Regions from separate parts of the Homo sapiens genome. Here region 2 is linked to region 1. The links come from fine-mapping of genetic effects on gene expression. A gene starts in region 1. The other region holds a variant in brackets. All regions are shown on one strand. Distances are from middle to middle.

Region 1 (5,364 bases):
GAGCCCAGGACTTTACATACGTAATACATCATTTAATCCTCACAACCACCCTTTTACCAAAGGATGCCAGGGGCTGCTGGGTAGGCTATTTACCTAAAATCACCGGGTAGGATTGGCACGCAAGCCGTTTTAGTTTTTGTTCTTAATGAGACAGGGTCTTGCTCTGTCGCCCAGGCTGGAGTGCAGTGGCGCAATCTCAGCTTATTGCAGCCTCGACCTCCCAGGCTCAAGCGATCCTCCCGCCTCAGCCTCCTGAGTAGCTGGGACTACAGGTAAAAGCCACAACGCCAGGATCTCCCTATGCTGCCCAGGCTTGTTCGGAACTCCTGAGCTCAAGCGATCCTCGGGCCTCAACCTCCCAGAGTGCTGGGATTACAGACGTGAGCCACCGCGCCCGGCTGGCACTCAGGTCTTTAATTTCAGAATCTTCAACAGTCCAGCTTTAAACAATGTTGGGGGGCAGTATGGCGGATGGGGGGGTTGTGACTGTCTTCAGGTGTTAAGCTGGGAGATGCCCCTCAAGGCAGCACTCTCTCCCCAATCAGCCAAGCCCTCATCTCCCGGAAAGAGGGGCGCTGAGAGCAGGGGATGGGGGTGGAGGGTCGGGTAGGTGGTTAAGGGGTGCTTCTTTGGGGGCCTGGGCGGAGCCAGGGCGGGGCTTGGCGAGCCCAGGGGAGGCGCCAAGCCGGTGGCCCCAGCTCACAGGCCAAGATGGCTGTTAATTAAAGTGCTGGCACCAGCTCCTCTCTGCAAAGTTTGAAGCCGTTATTTTCCACTCCAGCGAAGCGGGGAGAATCCGGCTGGGCTGACGGAGACGCCACACCGCGCCAGGGGAGCAGGAGCTTTTTCGGAGCGGGAGGCGGGGCGCCGTGTGGCTGCGAGCGCGCCTCTTGGATGCCCCGGCCGGCGCGGGGGTGGGTGGGCGCTCCCGCCCCATCCTTGGCCCCGGGCGGCCAGCCGCGGTGTGCCCGGAGGGCTCTGCGAGGGCTGTGGGTGGCGGGCGAGCCCCAGCGGCGTAGCAGAGGAGGGGCCCCCGAGCGAGCGTACTAGGGAGAAGGGGGTCCGTGCAAATCCCAGGCTGACGACCGCGCACGCGCCCCTCGGGTCACCAGCCCTGTCGCTCTTGGTGGGGCACACCGAGGAGACCGCCGTGGGGAACCGGGGACCGGATTGCCTGACAGCCGAGCGCTGAAGACTACTCTTCCTGAGCCTAGGGAGGTCTGGCTGCCCTGAGCCCCCTACCCCTGGGCTTTGGGCAGTAAACGGTACCTAGAGACTCTATCGCGCTGAGGTTGGAAGAGCCTGGAGCCAGGCTACGAGTTTGAGTCCCGGCTCTCCCACTTATTAGTTGTGTGACTTTAAGCAAATCTCTTAACTTCCCAGAGCCTCAGTTCTCCATCTGTAAAATTAAAATAATCTTGGATTTTACTTCTTTGGACTGATGTGAAGATCAAGGGTGATCATGTATGTAAAACATTCAACACAGGGCCTAGCACAGAGTAAACCCTGAATAAATGCTACTTATTGAAAATTTTTTAGCTCCCTCCTTGGTGGTGGTGGGGTCACTCCAACCTGGCCTCAGCCATTAGTGCTTGGAGGGTCCTCTTTCACAGCCCCCTCGTTGGATGTCCCTGTGTCCTTCTACTCCCAGCCCTGGATGAGGTGAGCGACCTCAACCTTGGGTAGGGAAGGCCAGGGAATCATTTTGCCCATGGTGAAGGGTCAACAGGGAGAGTGTGAGCCGGCGGGGGGTAGCTCTCGGGAGAGGAGAGGCTGGGATGTCATTCTTTAGCAGCCGGCCAGTCGCCTCCGAATGGCTGAATCCTCCCCGGTGGGCCGGATAAAGGAGGGCGAAGGAGGAGCGGTGGAGCAGCCCGACCTGGGCCTCAGATAATGTGACAAATATTTTGATGGAAGCAGACACGTTTCGGTTTATGCAACCTAAACACTTTGCTGCACTTGAGGAAGAGGAGAGCCTCCCACAGCCTGATGGGGAGAAGAGTTAGGGGGCGGCGGAGGAGGCTGGGGAGTGAGGGAGGAGGAGCTGAGGGGCTGGATGAGATCCACCCCTCATCCTGGAGGCTGGAAAAGGGGGTTACCCCTCAGGGACGTATTTGCATCTGTCAGCATGGAGAAATAACGTGGGGGTGCCCACCTTTTTAGGATCCCCTTTTCTCCCTGGTCTAGAGGCAGAAGTAAAGGGATTGAGCAGAGGGAGATGGAAGAAAAGGGCCCAGGAAAAAGCAGCCTGGCCACAGTTCGGTGAGGAAGGGGCAGAGGCGAGGAGGGGTTGGAAGCTCCTGCCCCACCTCGGGGGAGACGGGTCCCGGAACAGTCAGATCCAGAAAGGAGGAGGCGGCTGCCGTCTGGCTCCGCTGGGCCCCCGGACAGGCATTCATCCGATATCTGGATCTCCCAGACGGGTGGTCTGCGAGGCCTGAGTGCCAAATGGTCCCCTCCGTATCCTCTTCTTCGCTTCATAACCCCCTTTCTCATCCTACCTTCCAGCTCCCCGCTCCGTCCTCCCCTCAATCGCTCTTTGTCCCCTGCAGACCTGGGCGCTATCCCCTCGCTTCCGCCCCCTGCGGGTCTTGGCCCGTCGCGACCCCAGTCCCTCTGTTTTCCTGGTGACCGACCCTCGAAGCCTCTCCTCTCCCGATCCCCTCGGAGCTCTCTAGCTCTCCCTGTGGCCCTCTCTCCCTTTCGCATTTTGGTCCCTACTCTCCCCTTCCCTTGGAGCGCCTCTCGGGTCTCTCGGACCCCGGCCCCCACCCCATTTCCGAATCTCGGTCTCCGCGTACTCAGTCTCTTCTTTCCTCTCCCTGCTCCCGCCCGGGGTCTCCGCGGCCCCGCCCCCTTATGCCCCGCCCACCTCGAGGCGCCCGCGGCCCAATTAGGCGCCGGCCCCGCCCGCAGCCCCACCCCTAGAGAGCCCAGAGCCGCGCGGAGCTGGCGGGGCGGGGCCCGGCCGAGGGGGCGGTGGCCCGGCTCAAGGAGGCGGGAGGAGTCAGGCGGGAGGCTGCAGGCGGGAGGCGGGAGGCGGGAGGCGGCGGCCGCGGCGCTCAGTCCGGCAGCGCAGCAGGAGGGAGGCGCGAGGCAGGAGCCGGCGGCTGGGCTCCGCAGCGCAGCCAGCGCAGCGCGGCGCCCCGGGCCCGGCCCCATGCCCGCAGCCCCGCCGGACCGTCCTTGAGCGCGGGCGCCTAGCCCGCGCCCCCTGCCCGCCGGCACCATTGCCCCGACGGCGCGGCCGGGCGGCCCGGCGCTCCCCAGGCTCCGCGCGGGCCGAAAGACGCTGCTAGCGGCCGCCGCGGGTGTGGTGATGCTGCTGGTGCTGGTGGTGCTCATCCCCGTGCTGGTGAGCTCGGGCGGCCCGGAAGGCCACTATGAGATGCTGGGCACCTGCCGCATGGTGTGCGACCCCTACCCCGCGCGGGGCCCCGGCGCCGGCGCGCGGACCGACGGCGGCGACGCCCTGAGCGAGCAGAGCGGCGCGCCCCCGCCTTCCACGCTGGTGCAGGGCCCCCAGGGGAAGCCGGGCCGCACCGGCAAGCCCGGCCCTCCGGGGCCTCCCGGGGACCCAGGTCCTCCCGGCCCTGTGGGGCCGCCGGGGGAGAAGGGTGAGCCAGGCAAGCCGGGCCCTCCGGGGCTGCCGGGCGCGGGGGGCAGCGGCGCCATCAGCACTGCCACCTACACCACGGTGCCGCGCGTGGCCTTCTACGCCGGCCTCAAGAACCCCCACGAGGGTTACGAGGTACTCAAGTTTGACGACGTGGTCACCAACCTAGGCAACAACTACGACGCGGCCAGCGGCAAGTTTACGTGCAACATTCCCGGCACCTACTTTTTCACCTACCATGTCCTCATGCGCGGCGGCGACGGCACCAGTATGTGGGCAGACCTCTGCAAGAATGGCCAGGTGGGCCAGGCGGGGGCATGGGGCTGGGCTGGGCCCAGGGCACCCAGGGAGCCCGGGGCAAATGGGTACCTGATCGGAGTTGGCGGGGGCGCCAGGCGGACGCAGGTGGAGATCCCACCCCACAGCGGCCCCGCTTGGTCATCACGTGTGGGGATGGTCGGAGCCAGCGGACATCGCCGATCCTCAGTTCCTGGGTTCCCGCTCCAAGACAGACGCTGCTGGGCACCGTCTGGAACGCTACTGGAAATGCGGGAAATGAACCCAACTAGTCAGAGCGCAGGGCTCCCAGGTGCACGGACTTGCCCTTGGGGGCTTGCCCCTTGGGAAGTGGATTCGGGCCGACAGCAGTGGGCGATAAGGGGAGGGCAAGGATGGGCTCTGGCGTATGGAACAGGGAGAAGCAGCATCCGCGCCCGCGGGCGCCTAGGCGCGTGGCCATGGGCGCGAGCGGAGAAGGCTGGCTGCAGGAAATGTTTGGGGCACAAAGGCAAAGGGAGCCCGGTGCTTACAGCCCTGGCTGCAGTGCCTCCCCTGCCCTGGAGAAGGGACCATTGGGCGAATCTGACACCCTTTGCAAAATCCGGGAGTTGGGGAGCTGTTTCCCACTGTAGCAGAGCTTCCCCAAAAAGAAGGCAGTCTGGGGGGCGGGGGAGTTTTTCCTCCTGAGGCGGGGAGGGGGTGGGGGGTGGGGGGTGGTGGAAGAGATGGAAACTCCCCCTCCTCTTGGTCTCCCAGCTCCAGCCCCTCCTGACTCTGGAGTGTGTGGGGTCCTCTCCATTCTCCGTCCCCATCTCAGACGCTGCAGCTGGAAAGCACTGAGTGTGTCGGGGACTCTGGTACCGGGACTCGCATGTGCGTGTAGCTCTCCTTGGAATGGCCGACCCCAGGACCAGCCTCCACCCAGCCCCGCCCTGGGGTGACAATTTTAGCCAGCTCTCTTGATACCACCTCCCTTCCCAGTGCTCTCACTCGTGGTGGCCTGTGACCTGGGGGTGTGGTCAGGCTGAGCATTCTCTTCGAAGAAGGGGACCACTGGTCAGAACTAAAGCTGAGCTAGTGGAAGTTGAGAAGGAATCTCTCACGATTAAGATACAAGACCTTGTTGGAACCCTTCCCACAGCAGCACTGCCCTGAGGCTCTGCCAGCCTGCGGGTCTGCAAGTCTTAGGGGCAGAGACAGGGGCAGGCAGGGAAAGTGAGCAGATAGCCTGCCAGGTGCTTATAAGTCAGCCCTTCTTCTCTTTCCTCTGCCTGGCTGCTGCCCCGCCAACACCTTTTCTCTGGTTTCTGCCTCTCCCCTGCCTCTTTCTTCTATTTTGCTGTTTCTTGTCCATCTCTCTCCTGTGTCTGCCTTTTCCATCTCTCCCTGGGTTTCTGGCCTCTCCTCCCCGGATCTAACCCCACTCTTCTCTATTCCTTGTATGTCTCTCTTTCCCACGTGTGTCTATC
Region 2 (5,364 bases), 120 kb before region 1:
CATTCTGTGCTTGGCAACTGCAAACCGTCTTTCCAGCTACCCTTAGCCCCTAACTGAGGGCCAATTCATGGCAAAACCTCAGGACAATCACTGGGATCCAAGGTGGTTCGTGTTTTGGAAATCCATTTAAATCTCCCTTGGGTCACTGAATGACAAACATTTATCTTTAGTAATTTGGCTTCCTGCCTCCTGGTTGGTGTAAAGAGTGCTGTCAGGGCCCTGGCCCAGGCCCATCAGTCTGGATGGGTTTGTAAGGAGTCACAACAAGGCTGCTTTTGTGTCAACAGCAACAACAATGTACTGGGCCCATTTCTGAACCAGATGATGGCTTCTAGGCGCCAGGCTCAATCGTGGCCCTGCCAGCCTTGGCTTTCAGCAGCGTGAGCCAGTTAACTGCTACTGCCAACTCAGGCCCTCAGTGTTTAGAGTCCTGCAAGTGCCTTTGGGCTGAATCACCAAGTCTACATAGTGCTGCCGGGAAGTCACCCTGACACAACATCCCCTCCCTGAGCAGGATAGGCCCCTCCTCTGTGGGAGCATGTGGGGAGTGCTCCAAAGACACAGCCCTCATTCCTATCCAGAGCTCAATCGGACTCATATATGCTGAGAGATTCACCACTGAATTCTGGCCCTTGGGATGATTTCGGTTCTACAATGGGCTCACTCATGTTTACACTGGGAAGAATGCAATGTTTAGTGCATTTTGGAAAATGGAGTCTTCAAAAGGGACCAACCCAGTAACAGTGTTCCTAGCAAAGGGCTCTGTATAGACTAGGCACTCAATTCATGCTTTTACTGACTTTCAGACTCCTGATCCCAAATATTTTTTTTTTCTTTTCTTTTCTTTTTTTTTTTTTTGAGACAGTCTCATTCTGTCGCCCAGGTTGGAGTACAGTGGTGCGATCTTGGCTCACTGCAACCTTCACCTCCCTGGTTCAAGCAATTCTCCTGCCTCAGACTCCCGAGTGGCTGGAATTACAGGTGTCCGCCACCACGCTGGCTAATTTTGGTGTTTTGTTTTTTTTTTTTCAGTAGAGATGGAGTTTCACCATGTTGGCCAGGCTGGTTTCAAACCCCTGGCCTCAAGTGATCCACCCGCCTCGGCCTCCCAAAGTCCAAACATTTCATTCTAACATGTAACAGGAAGCTCTAGACCTTCCCAGAATGATAATCTGTGGGGCAAGTGTGGTGGAAAGGGCTGCATCAGGCTGCAGCACACGACACCACCGCTGGCACTGATCATCTCACCCTCTTCCATCAGACACATTACTGAGCACCAACCGTGCACCAGTGACTCAGTGACCATGCCAGCCCCTAGTGTACAGCAGGAAAAAGGACCAAGTCCCTGTCCTCATGAGACATACCATCTTCTGGGGAAATAGTAAATAAATGAGTCATTATCCACGTGCTGCAGGTCAGGATCTGGAAAGTGCAGGGACACACAACAGGGAAGCAGCCTGCTCTGTTGGTAATCAGGCTTCCCAACAGGTTTGCTTGGGAGAGAGGTCATATTTTTCTTCCCTAGTTAGGAAACTCATGACTGGCGAGATGGGGTCTTGCTCTGTTGCCCAGGCTGGAATGCAGTGGCGTAACCTTGGTTCACTACAGCCTCGACCTCCTAGGCCCAAACGATCCTCCCATCTCAGCCTCTCGAGTGGTTGGGACTATAGGCATGCGCCACTACGCCTGGCTAATTTTATTTTTCATAGAGATGAGGTCTCACTGTTGCCCAGGCTGGTCTCAAACTCCTAGACTCAAGTGATCCTCCTGCCTTGGCCTCCCAAAATGCTGGGATTATAGCATGAGCCACGGCGCCCAGCCAAAACCCACCATTTGATTATTCATAAAGTAGCTCTTGTGAATTTAAGTCAATCCGCTTCCAACTGACAGCTATGTATATTAAAAAAACATTTTTGAGCCTACAAAACTGAGGGCCAGACCCTCTAGTCTTATCTAGGTGCTAATTTCCCAACTTGTATTGAATTTATACCTTTTCCTATACACTTCAGAACCTTCTTTTTTTCCCCCTGAATTATTTCCATGGCCAAGAATACTGATGGTCTTCCCTATTGTACTAAAATAACCTCAAGGCTAAATCTTCTCATTTAGGCTGGCTACTAGGTCCTACACGCAACAGGCACTTCCATTCACTCACTCCTTCACCAAGTGTTCACTGAATCCTAGAATGTGCCAGTTCTGTGGCAGGGGCTGGCGAATGAAACAGACACAGGTCCTCACCATCATGGACACCAAAGAGATGAGCAAGGATGCACATGCCACCCGGCATGGTGAGGGCCAGTAAGAATGAAGTACAGGGTGCTATGGGACGTGTGTGTGTGTGTGTGTGTGTGTGTGTGTGTGTGTGTGTGTGT[GTGTGTC/C]AGGAAAGACCTCTCAGAGGAAATATCTAACGACAAGACCTCAAGGATAATTAGGAATCAGCCAGGCTGCAGGTGGACTATGTGGGGCAGGGTGGGTGTGAAAAAGTAGAGCTACAGGAAACACTGAAAAGGGAGCAGCCACTTTTACTAGACTCCCACTGTGGAGTGCCCTCGATGCCAAGAAGCAGCCCAAGGCTCCTGTGCTGTCCTCGGTGTGGTGCCAGCATCATGGCCTCTGCTTGTCCTGCTCTGTGGGGAGCAGCCTGCCTTCTCCCTTACAATGGCCTTTGAGTACCTCCTGCTGAGCAGGGGTGGAAGGCTGCTCTGCAGAGCACAGCAAGAATGCAGCTGATTCTCTCAAGGCCAACATGAACCAATAAATGACTAAGGATGACACTTCGAACTTGCTTTAAAAGAATCTGGAAGTTTAAAGAAAACCCTGAGCTTTCAATGGGTTTCTTTCTGCACACTCTTCCCTCAAAATTCTCTCCATGACATCAAACATCAGAGACCCAAAACTAAGCAATGCGGTGCAACTGTGAAGGACTTCGGAGAAATGAGAATGTCTGAGATGCGGAAAACATTAAACCAAACAAAGGCCAAGGAGAGGAAAAAGAGAGGGGAAGCTTCTCTCTGGGACCCATGGAAACCAGGTGAGTGCACATCCTCCCTTTGATAGTGACTTTTTAAAACAGAGTGGCCACACTGCATTCCACTGACCAAAGACAGAAAAGGATACTGCTTCCGTTGACATGAGTGGGAAAGGGGTGACTTTAAAAAGAAGAACGACATGATCTCGAGTGGGGGATCAAAAGTTCATCTGCGGCTCTTACAGTTGTTACACAGACTAAAACACTTCTGCTAAGAAGGCCTTTCATTTTTATTTATTTATTTTTTAATCTTTGAGACAGGGACTCGCTTTGTCACCCAGGCTAGAGTGCAGTGGCACGATCATGGCTCACTACAGCCTCGACCTCCAGGACTCAAACGATCCTCCCACCTCAGTCTCCTGAGAAACTGGGACCATAGGCATGTGCTACCATGTCTGGCTAATTTTTAAATTTTTTTGTAGAGACGAGGTCTTTCCCTGTTGTCCAGGCTGGTCTTGAGCTGCTGGGCTCAAGCAATCCTCCTGCCTTGGCCTCCCAAAGTGCTGGGATTACAGGCATTGAGCCACTACACCCGGCCTAAGAAGGCCTTTCCATGGTAAACCTAGGATAATTTTAAGCTTCTAAAGAATTGCAGGTCTCAGTCAGGTGCAGTGGCTCACGCCTATAATCCCAGCACTTTGGGAGGCTAAGACAGGAGGACAGCTTGAGCCTAGGAGTTTGAGACCAGCCTGGTCAACATAGTGAAACCATGTCTCCACAAAAAATTTAAAAATTAGCCAGGCATGTGGCAGGCACCTGTAGTCCCAGCTACTCAGGAGGCTAAGGTGGGAGGATTGCTTGAGCCCAGGAGATCAAGGCTGCAGTGAGCCATGATCATACCACTGCACTCCAGCCTGGGCAGCAGAGCGAGATCCTGTCTCAAGAAAATAAAAGAGAGGGCCGGGTGCGGTAGCTCATGCCTGTAATCCTAGCACTTTGGGAGGCCAAGGCACGTGGATCACGAGGTCAGGAGTTCAAGACCAGCCTGGCCAAGATGGTGAAACCCTGTCTCTACTAAAAATACAAAAATTAGCCGGGCGTGGTGGTGGGCACCTGTAATCCCAACTACTCGGGAGGCTGAGGCAGAGAACTGCTTGAACCTGGGAGGCAGAGGTTGCAGTGAGCCGAGAAAACGCCACTGCACTCCAGCCTGGGCGACAGAGTGAGACTCTGTCTCATAAATAAATAAATAAATCAGAGAGACTTGTAGGTTTCTTTAGTGGAATACCATCTAATTAAAACTCTCCCAAGAAGGTGGAGAGTACTGTAAAAACACAGTGCAGCTGATATGCACGAGATTTATAATCATTAGTCCTCCAATTAAGTGAAAAAAAAATTAGGGCAAGAAGCTGTAGGTACCACCACCCCTGAGAAAACTCAGAACTAGGGTGACGCCTCAGCCATGCAGGCTAACACGCCTGCCAAGGTGGCACTTTTTACAGGCTGACACAAACACAGGAATCTAACTGGGGCTTGACTGACCCTGGACCTCAAAGGCAGACTAGTCAGATGCTCAGGGTGACTGCTCTTCCATGGAGTCCGACACCACACACTGCACAGAAGGCAAAGCCAGAAGAAATAAAACCAGACCTTGTTCCTCCTTCCTCAAAGTGTCAGGGCCCGTATGAGCAACTGTGTGGTTTTCTCTTGAGCTTTCTGAGAACTAAACTGAAGCACTTTCTACATTTACAGGTGAAAGGAAAACAAAGTATGCTGGGCTGAAGAGGAACAGAAGCAAATTAATCCCAAGCTGCCTCTTTTTTTTTTTTTTTAAATTCATTTTTGAGATGCATTCTTGCTCTGCTGCCCAGGCTGGAGTGCAGTGGTGCGATCTCAGCTTACTGCAACCTCTGTCTCCTAGGTTCAAGTGATTCTCCCACCTCAGACTCTCAAGTAGCTGGGATCACAGGCCCATGCCACCAGCCCAGCTAGTTTTTGTATTTTTAGTAGAGACGAGGTTTTACCATGTTGGCCAGGCTGGTCTCGAACTCCTGACCTCAGGTCATCCGCCTGCCTCGACCTCCCAAAGTGCTGGGATTACAGGCGTGAGCCACTGCGCCCAGCCTCAATCTGCCTCTTTCCCAAGTGCCACTATCTGTGAAGAATGTAGCAAGGTTACTCATTTGCAAATTCCTCAGGAAAAATAAAATCAAACCAAAACTCCAAAATGCCATCTGAAAACAGAGCCAAGATACATGGCAGCCACCACACAACACCTCATCAGGGATTTCATTCAGAGGTGAGATGTGTGGCTCTCTGCATCTTTCCTGCTCCTCAGCGAGAAACTGGTCACTGGGACCCTACCCTGTGGCCCAAAGCCTTGCTGGAGGGCTTAG

Which allele goes with the higher level. Alleles are on the strand shown, and positions count from the first base shown. SD is a standard deviation of normalised expression in the study named.
For the expression in transverse colon of the gene that starts at base 3,065 in region 1, GTGTGTC is the high allele of the variant in region 2 and C is the other (large effect, 1.0 SD a copy in CEDAR).

Evidence for each region. PIP is the estimated chance that this variant, and not a neighbour inherited with it, causes the effect. A credible set is the group of variants that fine-mapping cannot tell apart.
Region 2: its variant is the best candidate, but not a certain one, in a credible set for the expression of C1QL1 in transverse colon (CEDAR, PIP 0.56).

What each region holds. Positions count from the first base shown.
Region 1 is chr17:44,966,004-44,971,367 of GRCh38, reverse strand. C1QL1 (complement C1q like 1) reads left to right here and starts at 3,065. Exons shown (of 2, transcript NM_006688.5): 1 at 3,065-3,916. The coding sequence starts at 3,320. It also overlaps the pseudogene LOC112268183. RefSeq lists silencers at 869-938, 2,775-3,134.
Region 2 is chr17:45,088,202-45,093,565 of GRCh38, reverse strand. The region is part of intron 3 of NMT1 (N-myristoyltransferase 1); the gene reads right to left. Among named protein-coding and RNA genes, the nearest start is that of MIR6784, 24 kb to the left of the region's middle. RefSeq lists an enhancer at 2,341-2,842. The variant GTGTGTC/C (reference allele first, on the strand shown) is at 2,373.